Homo sapiens: one gene and its partners. The protein of the gene in region 1 interacts with the protein of each later gene in a pairwise test. Each region holds a gene or a part of one and is shown in the gene's direction. Other genes may lie near its edges. The genes, in order: SERPINH1, SERBP1 and DNASE1L1.

The links.
Region 2: the proteins of SERPINH1 (region 1) and SERBP1 interact in binary tests that used the Homo sapiens proteins (3 or more experiments, as listed by UniProt).
Region 3: the proteins of SERPINH1 (region 1) and DNASE1L1 interact in binary tests that used the Homo sapiens proteins (3 or more experiments, as listed by UniProt).

The regions. Positions count from the first base shown.
Region 1 is NC_000011.10:75,565,253-75,568,852, forward strand, and holds part of SERPINH1 (serpin H1 isoform 1 precursor), read left to right. Parts: intron 1-1,063; 5' UTR 1,064-1,097; coding exon 1,098-1,719; intron 1,720-3,478; coding exon 3,479-3,577; intron 3,578-3,600.
Region 2 is NC_000001.11:67,428,733-67,432,551, reverse strand, and holds the start of SERBP1 (SERPINE1 mRNA-binding protein 1), read left to right. Parts: upstream 1-2,149; 5' UTR 2,150-2,251; coding exon 2,252-2,564; intron 2,565-3,819. UniProt on the Homo sapiens protein: Ribosome-binding protein that promotes ribosome hibernation, a process during which ribosomes are stabilized in an inactive state and preserved from proteasomal degradation.
Region 3 is NC_000023.11:154,402,655-154,406,473, reverse strand, and holds part of DNASE1L1 (deoxyribonuclease-1-like 1 precursor), read left to right. Parts: intron 1-818; 5' UTR 819-905; coding exon 906-1,040; intron 1,041-1,390; coding exon 1,391-1,479; intron 1,480-1,559; coding exon 1,560-1,646; intron 1,647-2,851; coding exon 2,852-2,952; intron 2,953-3,092; coding exon 3,093-3,205; intron 3,206-3,283; coding exon 3,284-3,532; intron 3,533-3,632; coding exon 3,633-3,767; 3' UTR 3,768-3,819.

The DNA.
Region 1 (3,600 bases):
TGGCTGTCAGATTGGAGGGCAGAATGGAATCTGATGTGGCTCCAGCTTCTTTGAAGGCTGAGTGCACATCTGGCCAGCTGCTGGTGATGGGGAAGGGGGTCACTGCTCTATTGAGCTATGTGTGACTCACCCTTTTCCCTAGTATCCTGTCCTTGTGCTATGTCAGGAAGCCTCCTCCCCAGCCCCACCGAGTCTTCAAAGGAGTTGGTCCCCCAGGAGCTTTTGTCCTGGGGATTTCCCATCCGCACTGGGAGCACTGTGGGTAGATGGGCATTCCAAGTTCCTGCCCAGACAGAAGCCATGGGCATGGAGACCTGGACCTTTCAGCTTGGAAAAGGGAGACTGAGGCTGAGTGGACACAGGACACACACACACACACTCTCAGGGTCACCCTTGGGGCAGCAAAGTGGAGCATCTTGGCTCCCCATTTAATGAGTGACCCAACTGGTGACTCATTAACATCCCAGAGCAGAATGAAAGGCATGGGGGCGGGGCAGCCCTCCGGCTCTGTCCCTCATCCCTTGCCCAGGCATCTGGGTTTCCTGCAGATTCTCAGCTCAGCTGCTGCTTTTTCTCACTGGAAAAGGGCTCCCAGGGCTATGTGAGATCAGGGCTGACCACTCTATAAACTGATGAGGACCCCAGGTCTGGCCAAGTGACCCTGTTTTACCTTCGTTCAGGAAGAGCTGAGGCCTACTGTGTACTAGGCACGGGAGATATAGTGGCAACCAGATTGGCTAGCTTTTCTGTCCTGGAGGCCACAGCCTACTTAGGAGCAGAAATAGTTATGAAATAAACACACAAATAAGTGGAAGTGTTGGCTGGCCGATGCAGGAAATCAATAAGGTGGTCTGGTGGTGACTTGCTGGGAATGCTTCTTTGAGTAGGGAGGTAACAGAGGCCTCTGAGAGGCTGGCAGCTCTGAGTCAAGTCTGGGATTCCTGGACTGTGGGCTCTCTTGCCCCCATCTCCAGGGGACTTGTGGCAGCCAGAGAGCTGAGGGTGGTTGTTGGGGAGGAAGGCCTTGGGCTTCAAGACCACCCTGTCTGTGCAATCCTCACAGGCCCACCGTGGTGCACGCAAACCACTTCCTGGCCATGCGCTCCCTCCTGCTTCTCAGCGCCTTCTGCCTCCTGGAGGCGGCCCTGGCCGCCGAGGTGAAGAAACCTGCAGCCGCAGCAGCTCCTGGCACTGCGGAGAAGTTGAGCCCCAAGGCGGCCACGCTTGCCGAGCGCAGCGCCGGCCTGGCCTTCAGCTTGTACCAGGCCATGGCCAAGGACCAGGCAGTGGAGAACATCCTGGTGTCACCCGTGGTGGTGGCCTCGTCGCTAGGGCTCGTGTCGCTGGGCGGCAAGGCGACCACGGCGTCGCAGGCCAAGGCAGTGCTGAGCGCCGAGCAGCTGCGCGACGAGGAGGTGCACGCCGGCCTGGGCGAGCTGCTGCGCTCACTCAGCAACTCCACGGCGCGCAACGTGACCTGGAAGCTGGGCAGCCGACTGTACGGACCCAGCTCAGTGAGCTTCGCTGATGACTTCGTGCGCAGCAGCAAGCAGCACTACAACTGCGAGCACTCCAAGATCAACTTCCGCGACAAGCGCAGCGCGCTGCAGTCCATCAACGAGTGGGCCGCGCAGACCACCGACGGCAAGCTGCCCGAGGTCACCAAGGACGTGGAGCGCACGGACGGCGCCCTGCTAGTCAACGCCATGTTCTTCAAGCGTGAGTCGGGGGCGCGTTCAGGGGTCCTCCTCCTCCTCCCAGGACCCCCTGCAAGAGTTAGGACGACATTCCGTGCGCTCCATTCTTCACTGCCTCTCATTTATGCTGTGACAACCCAGGGAGGCAGGACTGTCACTCAGCTTTTTGTACAGACTGGAAACTAGATTCAGAGACAGGTAGCAGCGTGTAAAGGAATGGTTCAGGGAGCGGAGGCCCCAGAGGGACTCCATGGAATGTATTCCGACCGAATTTCGTCAAAGTGCTCGTCCTTGTGTATCTTGGAATGAATAACATTTAATAATCCATTCTGCCTCAGTAGTGAGCTAGAGAAAGAACTCAAATCCTTTTTTTAAAATTATTTTTATTTTGAGATGGAGTCTCACTCTGTCACCCAGGCTGGAGTGCAATGGCACGATCTCAGCTCACTGCAGCCTTGGCCTCCGGGCTTCAAGCAATTCTCCTGCCTCAGCCTCCTGAGTAGCTGGGGTTACAGGTGCCTACCACCACACCCAGCTAATTTTTGTATTTTTACTAGAGACGGGGTTTTGCCATGTTGGCCAGGCTGGTCTCAAACTTTTGGTCTCAAGTGATCTGCCCGCCTCGGCCTCCCAAAGTGCTGGGATTACAGGTGCGAGCCACCATGTGCGGCCAAGACCCAGAATCCTTAAAGCAACCTTGGGGGCAGGCAGTGTTACCTTCATTTCACAGTGAGGAAACTGAGGCTCAGCAAGGAGGAAGCAGAGCCAGGCCTCAGGCCCAGATGCCTCTGTCTTCAGTTGAAGATTAGATGTAGGGTTAATAAATATTTTTGAGTACCTCCATAGACAACACTATTCTCACAGTTTGCTGTGAGAATGAAGTAACCCTCGTTTTACAAATGAGGCCAAGCTAGGAGAGCTGAGGTCTCCCCGAGTCAGTGGCTGAGCTTGGATTGGAACACAGGTCTGGCTGTGAGCAAGGGCAGGGTTCAGGCCACTCTCAGACATTTTTTGTTGTTATTTTCTGGTCATGGAGACAGAACTTGCAGAGGAAAACGAAGGGTGGGCTGAGCACAGTAGCTCATGCCTGTAATCCTAGCACTTTGGGAGGCCAAGGTGGGTGGATCACATGAGCCCAGGAATTTGAGACCAGCCTGGGTAAGATGGCGAAACCCCATGTCTACAAAAAATTAGCCAGGCGTGGTGGCGCATGCTGGTAGTCCCAGCTACTCTGGAGGCTGAGGTGGGAGGATCGCTGGAGCCTGGGAATTCAAGACTGCAGTGTGTCATGATTGTACCACTGCACTCCAGCTGTAGGATGGAGTGGGACGGACCTTGTCTCAAAAAGAAAAAGATAAAAAAAAAATTAAGGGTGGTCATGGGGCACTCCCTGCCCAGGGCACAGCTGTCCCCCAGGTACCAGGGAGGGTAGAAAGCCCACCTCAGAGCATGTTTCCAAAATATCTGACAAGTGCTAGAGCCGGGGGTGGCCATAGAGGTGGCTGACCTGAGGGCGGAATTAATTCTCTATCATATGGGAGCAGCAGGCACTGACTGTAGGGAACCGCATCCTCAGATGGCATGTCCTGGGGCCAAGACCCCTTCCCAAAGCTGGGAACATAGACTCTGTGGGCTGGGTGCTCTATAGCTGGGCCCTGAAGAATGGAGCAAAGACCTGTGGCAAGGATAAATCAAGGTCTGCAGCCGGGGGTGGCTGTGGGCTGTGATTGTGTTTGGGGGCGGCCATGTGTCTCTGACCCTGTGTTTTGCCCCAACTACAGCACACTGGGATGAGAAATTCCACCACAAGATGGTGGACAACCGTGGCTTCATGGTGACTCGGTCCTATACCGTGGGTGTCATGATGATGCACCGGACAGGTAGGTGCTGTGAGGAGCAGGGT
Region 2 (3,819 bases), on another chromosome or scaffold:
AGCCAGAAAATTCCTCTATGTGTAGCTTATTTTCAAATATTCTTATTGTAATAATGCTTGGTGGTTACGAAGCTCTGTTTGAGCAAACCAGAAATCTGTAATGGAGGAGAAAAATGAATAACAACAGGCCTGCCCCACCCCCCAGATTGTGGCAGGAGTAGTTAACTTACTTAAGCTCTTTGTTTTCATTTTCCTAATCTTAAAACAGGAGCAATAACTTTTTTTTTGCGGGGGGGAGGTATGGAGTAATAACTTTCTTATAGAGTTGATGTAAGGTTTAAAGGAGATCACGTATGTAAAGTGCACCAAGCACACACTAAAACATCACGTTTTAGTATGAATATTGTTACTGTGGCCGTGGCCAGAAAGAGTTAAGAAGAGGAGCTTTCACAGATGTCTCAAAGATGCAGGCAGTCTCAGAGACGCAACAGCCCGTGAAGAGAGAAAATCTGTCAAAATGTGGAGATCTTCTACATTGCACTTGAGCTATTTCAAAAAGGTGGGAAGAGTATGGTCAAAAGCTCCTTGTCTTGGTAGGTGCCACAGAACCAGAGCCTGTGGAAGGGGGGATGAGATAGGGGGTGTGTTTGAGGTTGGGCGTTGTGGGCAGGGTGCAGGACTGAGGCAGCAGGGAAATAAGTGAGGAATAGGGGAGGATTGAGAAACAAGAAAACCAGGAGGCTTGCTGCCCCATGTATGTAATATGACTCGTGTCTTCTATTTTCCCTGCTAAGGAATTGATTTAAAATCTGCTCGGAAATTGATGATTACATTCCGCCATGTTACATATCCTGACACGCAACAATGTTTAAATTATATCGGAAATTTAAAAATTGGACTGCTTTCTATCAGGGCAGTCTGAATTAAAGAGCTGATGTCCAGTCTCCTAGTGGAGATAGAATACTGGGCTAATGCCTGTCACTAGCACTTACAGAGGTGTGAATTTGGTAAATCATTTCATCTCTGAAGTGGTTTCAACATTTGTGAAAAGAGGCAAACTATTTGCCTAACAAAATGTTGAGTTCAAGGTTATTCATAGCTCCTACCAAATAAGCGATGCATTTGCTACTTTGTGTTAATGGAAAAGGACTTAAAAATTATGATATACTTAAACCCGGTGCTACCAAATGTGCTTAAATACGCATTCAAATTGTATTCTTTTAATGAATTTTAATATTCTCAACTAGTATCAATGCTTTGTCATTATTAAGTGTTGACTTCAATATTTCCCTCCCCTCACCGCAACTCCTAGCACACATGCACTCGAAATGTTCTCAAATGATATGTATTGAGCGCATGTGACTAACAACACAGCCACCTAAGCCCTGACTTGCCGGACACGAACGGACGATTAATTGGAATAATTGTAACAGGGTTTCTATAAACAGTGCTTCCTGGAGGCTTGCCCCGCGTCTAGCGCTGCACCGTCAGGAGTTAACCACTCCTACGACACCCGCCGCCACACGGTGAGAAGCCCGGGAAAGACGCGCCACGCTCCCATGTGATAGTTTCACTTGTCTTTTTGGTTAGTTCTGCTACCCTAGTTCATGTCCCCGCGAGAGGAAACGTATTCCCCCTCACATTAGACAGAAGAGCCTCGATTCACCGTGGAGGCTGACGGAGGGCCACTCCAGCAACTGAGCAGCTCGGACTTGGCACAGGCAGGGTCCAGCCTACCCGCGGCCGGCGCGGCGCCTCAGCAACACCCCCTCCCCCGGAAGTTTGTGCGTCTCAGATGTAAGGTCTGGGAGTCACCTTGACCCCCCTGGAGCGGTGGGGAAAGTTAGCCCTGAGCCCGAGGGGGCGTGAGTGAAACCAAAGAGCACTTTCGCGAGTCAGTTACGCCGTCACGGTTTTTTGGTTTCAAGGTAGCTGAAGACCTAGAGAGTTTAAGGGTGGCCAGAGCAGGTGGCAGGACTCCGCCCACCACCACGCTTCCCTTCCTTCAGCCCGCACGCTTCACTCCCCTCATGGGGTCTCGCCTCTCAGGCGCGCGCGAAGAGTTGTCGCGCGGTGCGTCCTGGGAATTGTAGTCCCGACGCGGAGAGTCGCCTCAGGAGAAATGACTCTGGCCTACATACCCCACAGTGCCTTGCGGCGCAGGCCGCTCCCGGATGTGTGCCTGGCGCCGGAAGAGAAGACGGCCCCCCTCTCTCGGCCCGGCCATCTTGTGGGAAGAGCTGAAGCAGGCGCTCTTGGCTCGGCGCGGCCCGCTGCAATCCGTGGAGGAACGCGCCGCCGAGCCACCATCATGCCTGGGCACTTACAGGAAGGCTTCGGCTGCGTGGTCACCAACCGATTCGACCAGTTATTTGACGACGAATCGGACCCCTTCGAGGTGCTGAAGGCAGCAGAGAACAAGAAAAAAGAAGCCGGCGGGGGCGGCGTTGGGGGCCCTGGGGCCAAGAGCGCAGCTCAGGCCGCGGCCCAGACCAACTCCAACGCGGCAGGCAAACAGCTGCGCAAGGAGTCCCAGAAAGACCGCAAGAACCCGCTGCCCCCCAGCGTTGGCGTGGTTGACAAGAAAGAGGAGACGCAGCCGCCCGTGGCGCTTAAGAAAGAAGGTAAAGCAGGGGCAGAATGTGGGGGAGACTGGGATGGAGGGAAGGAGCGAGGGGGCTGCCGGCTGCCACTTGTTTCTGGAGCTCCGAGGGTCCGCGGGAGACTTTGCCGCCTATATCCTCACGTTTCTTCACGCGACAAAAGTCCGGTCCTGCGAAGGTGCCAGGAGCGTGGTAGCCCCAAGTTCAAGCCACCGCCGGCGAGGTTCTCGGAGCCATCCCCTTCCCGCCTCAGGTTGTGAGCAGAGGAGCGTGGTCGGAGATGAGCTGCTCCTCGAGCGCGCTCGAGGTCCTGGGAGGCTGTTGCCTTCCCGCCGGATTCCTTGGCGGGTGAGCGCATGGACTGAGGTGCGGGGAAGCCGGCCCCTCACCGAAGCTTTCCGTAGTTACGGAGGAGCTTGGGGGTCCATCGCTGCTTACTGCGCAGAGCTGCTCCTTTGAGGTGCTGTTGTTTCAGGCTCCTGTCCTGCCGTCTTGTCCCACGACGGCGCGGAGTATCCCCGCTGAAAAGCAGGGGGTCGTTCCAGGCCATCAGACGTGTGGAGTAAGCTGCAGGTTGGGGTGCCGCATGTCCTTTATTTGTTTCTCTTCCACCTCTCAACTGTTAGGACTTTCTCATAACTTGCTGGGGTGAGTTGAGCCGTTGGGAAATGGAGGAGTTTGGCCACACTCGATTAACCAGGAGCGGGAATTATGAATGAAGACTGGTGATTGCAGGACATCCCGAGGAACGTCCTCGAGTCACGATCCTCTCTCTCGACTCCCCAAACTGAATCTTTCACGTGGTGGGGTCTGGGCCTCGTGGGTGAAGTGAGTGCAGAGGCTGTCACAGCGTTAGTCGCAGCAGAGCTCTTTAGAGTTCGCAGTTTTTTTTTTCCACCACATGTGCGTGAAGCATGGTCAGAGTTTCACTGGCGGTTAATAGTTGTTTCTAGGGCACTGTGAGTTTCACAGGATTGTCTTGATTTTTGCATTCGCTTTACCAGTTTGTTGCGGATGAAAAAAAAGAGCAAGCAGTTTGGAGATAAGAACGTGCATGATCAATAGCAAGCAGGTGTTGGACCTAAGGTCTGAATCTTTAAAGCTGCATTTATATGTTGAAAGTTGAAATTACCCCTTCCTGCCACGTGCTTCTCTGAAAGGAGTTGTTTCTCTTTAGCTTTAGTTGAATTCTGTAACAGTGAACTAATTTTAAAAATCAAAACAATTTTCTCGTGGTAGGATTTGTTTTAGGAGGGTTTTTTTTTTTTTTTTTGAG
Region 3 (3,819 bases), on another chromosome or scaffold:
CGCTTGAACCTGGGAGGCAGAGGTTGCAGTAAGCCGAGATCGCACCATTGCACTCCAGCCCGGGCAGCAAGAGCGAAACTCCGTCTCAAAAAAAAAAAAAAAAAACCAGATGGATGGATGAATGAATGAATGAACAAAATGTGGTCTACCCAGATGCCCAGACAATGGAATATGATTCAGCCATGAAAAGGAAAGAAATTCTACAGCCGGGTGCGGTGGCTCACGCCTGTAATCCCAGCATTTTGGGAGGCCGAGGCGGGCAGATCACGAGGTCAGGAGATCAAGACCATTCTGGCTAACATGGTGAAACCCCATCTCTACTAAAAATACAAAAAATTAGCCGGGCGTGTGGCAGGCACCTGTAGTCCCAGCTACTCGGGAGGCTGAGGCAGGAGAATGGCGTGAACCCAGGAGGCGGAGCTTGCAGTGAGCCGCGTTTGCGCCACTGCACTCCAGCCTGGGCGACAGAGTGAGACTCCGTCTCAAAAAAAAAAAAAAAATTCTGACATATGCTCCAACATGAATGACCCTTGAGGACATTTTGCTCAGTGAAATGAGCCAGTCACAAAAAGACAAATACTGTAGGATTTCACTTTTTTTTGAGACGGAGTCTTATTGTCGCCCAGGCTGGAGTGCAGTGGTGCGATCTTGGCTTGATCTTCACAGAGCAAGACTCTGTCTCAAAAACAATTTTTTTTTTTGGAGACAGAGTCTCACTCTGTCACCCAGGCTGGAGTGCAGTGGTATGATCTCGGGAGGTCACTGGGAGGCTGGTGCTGGGCAGCAGCTAGTGCCACTTTCTCTGTTCCATATTTCAGCGCTTCCAGAGCCAGAACTGAGCCCAGTGAGAGCGCACCCTGGGGCAGCCTGGATTCCTGGGGTGTCCCCGGCAGCCACACACAGCCATGCACTACCCAACTGCACTCCTCTTCCTCATCCTGGCCAATGGGGCCCAGGCCTTTCGCATCTGCGCCTTCAATGCCCAGCGGCTGACACTGGCCAAGGTGGCCAGGGAGCAGGTGATGGACACCTTAGTTCGGGTAAGTTCATCACTTCAGGGAAGCCGTGCCCCTAACCACCATGAGCCAAAGCCCCCATCCCTGCCTGACCAGGGGTATGTTCTAGAGAAGAGGGGAGAAGAAGAGGTGTGGCACGGAGATGCAGCGCAGGCGCTTGCCTGCTGCTGGCCTCAGTCTCCTCCTCTGTGAAACAGGTGACATGTGGGTGGGATGAGTCTTTTCCTGGGGCATTTCCAGTCCCACTGCTTTCTGTGGGCTGCAGTCAGTGAGCCTTAACACTCTGGGCCACAACAGTGCCAGTCCCCTGGGCCCACTGCCTCCTCTCAGGGCAGTTGGCACTGAGTCAGGCTGGCCTTCCTGATGTCCCACAGATACTGGCTCGCTGTGACATCATGGTGCTGCAGGAGGTGGTGGACTCTTCCGGCAGCGCCATCCCGCTCCTGCTTCGAGAACTCAATCGGTGAGGAAGATTCTGTGGGTCTAATCAGGGGCACACCCAGAGGCTTGAGGCCCTGACCCCGCCTCCCCTTTTCTTGGCAGATTTGATGGCTCTGGGCCCTACAGCACCCTGAGCAGCCCCCAGCTGGGGCGCAGCACCTACATGGAGACGTATGTGTACTTCTATCGGTGAGCACGGAGCTGGCAGCGCAGCAGGGTGGGGGGCGGTCCTTGGCCCTAATGTGAGGTAGGCTCATTAGTCCCCGGGGCCACAGGCCCCCCATCCTGGGACAGCCTCACCTGCTTTGCATGCTTTCTCTTCTCAACACCTTTTATTCTGGGCTCTTCCCATCCTCGACCCCCGCCAGAGTGTCCATAGAGCAGGAGGCCTTCCTTCTATAAGCACAAATGTGGGGTCCCTCCTCCTCTCTCCTGTGGGAGCTGCTGGGGCTCAGGGTGTGGCTGGCCCCCTCTATGAAAGTGGCCAGCAAGGGCTGCAGCTCCTGGGAAGAGGCTCCGTGGGGACCACTTATGGGCCTTGGGTAGACCCGATCTTCTAAGTCCCTGGGAGGACAGGCTGGCAGGGAGCCCTTTGGAGTCAGGATCCAGAGGGCAAGGGAGGCTGCAGGGAAGGAGAACTGATTCTCTATATAAATAAAATGATATGACATCTGGTATGCGCTCCAAAATTACTGGGTAGGCAGGGTACAGTGGCTCATGCCTGTAATCCCAACGCTTTGGGAGGCTGAAGCAGCAGGATCACTTGAACCCAAGAGTTCAAGGCTGCAGTGAGCTATGATTGTGCCAGTGCACTGCAGCCTGAGCAACAGAGTGAGACCATGTCTCAAAAAAAAAAAAAAAAAAAAAAAGAATGACATCAAAGTGTCCAAATGTCAAAATGTACTATACCCAGTCCGTGGAATATTATTCAGCCAGAAAGAGGAATGAAGCACAGACGTGCCACAGCATATGGACGAACGCAGAAAACATTGATGAGCTGATTTCATTCATATGAAATATCCAGAATAGGCAAATGTACAAGATAGAGAACAGATTAATGGTTGCAGGGGCTGGGGGGAGGGGAGAATGGAGAGTAACTGGTAATGGATGTTATGTTTTTATTAGGAGTAATGGATACCAATGTTTTAAAATTGATTGTAGAAATAGTTGCACAGCCTTATGAATGTACAAAAGAACCGTGTTGTATACTTGAAGCAGGTGAATTTTATGGCATATGAATTATGCCTGATTTTTGAAAGTTCTAGAGACAGGTTGGGAGGGCTGTGCCCACATTGCCGCTGTTAGTGGAGGGCCCCTCCCTGAGCGCCGTTTGGCACTTGCAAGCCAAAATCAAAGACGTGGGGCCACTGCTGCCCATCCCTTTGTCCTCCCAGGTCACACAAAACACAGGTCCTGAGTTCCTACGTGTACAACGATGAGGATGACGTCTTTGCCCGGGAGCCATTTGTGGCCCAGTTCTCTTTGCCCAGCAATGGTAGGAAGGGAAGGGTGGGCTTGGTATGTGGGAGCAGAAGGGGAGTTCTGGCTGGCTCCACTGGGGGCTTCCTCACCCAGACGGGCTAGGGGGAGAAGGTCCAGGAGTGGATGGCAGCCCTCGGTCCCTGGGCCTTGCAGTCCTTCCCAGCCTGGTGTTGGTCCCGCTGCACACCACTCCTAAGGCCGTAGAGAAGGAGCTGAACGCCCTCTACGATGTGTTTCTGGAGGTCTCCCAGCACTGGCAGAGCAAGGTAGGCCTGGGCAGTTTGTACAGGAGGGACAAGGATAGGGTGGCCCAGCGGCCAGCCTGATGGCTGCTGTGTCTCTAGGACGTGATCCTGCTTGGGGACTTCAATGCTGACTGCGCTTCACTGACCAAAAAGCGCCTGGACAAGCTGGAGCTGCGGACTGAGCCAGGCTTCCACTGGGTGATTGCCGATGGGGAGGACACCACAGTGCGGGCCAGCACCCACTGCACCTATGACCGCGTCGTGCTGCACGGGGAGCGCTGCCGGAGTCTGCTGCACACTGCGGCTGCCTTTGACTTCCCCACGAGCTTCCAGCTCACCGAGGAGGAGGTGAAGGGATGGGGCTGGCATGAGGAGGGAGGGCAGCAGCAGGGTCACAGGGAAGCCCCTCGGCCCCGGGCACTGACACTGCCCCACCACCCATTCCCAGGCCCTCAACATCAGTGACCACTACCCCGTGGAGGTGGAGCTGAAGCTGAGCCAGGCGCACAGCGTCCAGCCTCTCAGCCTCACTGTTCTGTTGCTGCTATCACTCCTGTCCCCTCAGCTGTGCCCTGCTGCCTGAGCGTCCCCCTACCCCCCCAGGGCCTGCTGCCTTTTGGGACTTAAACCCCAGC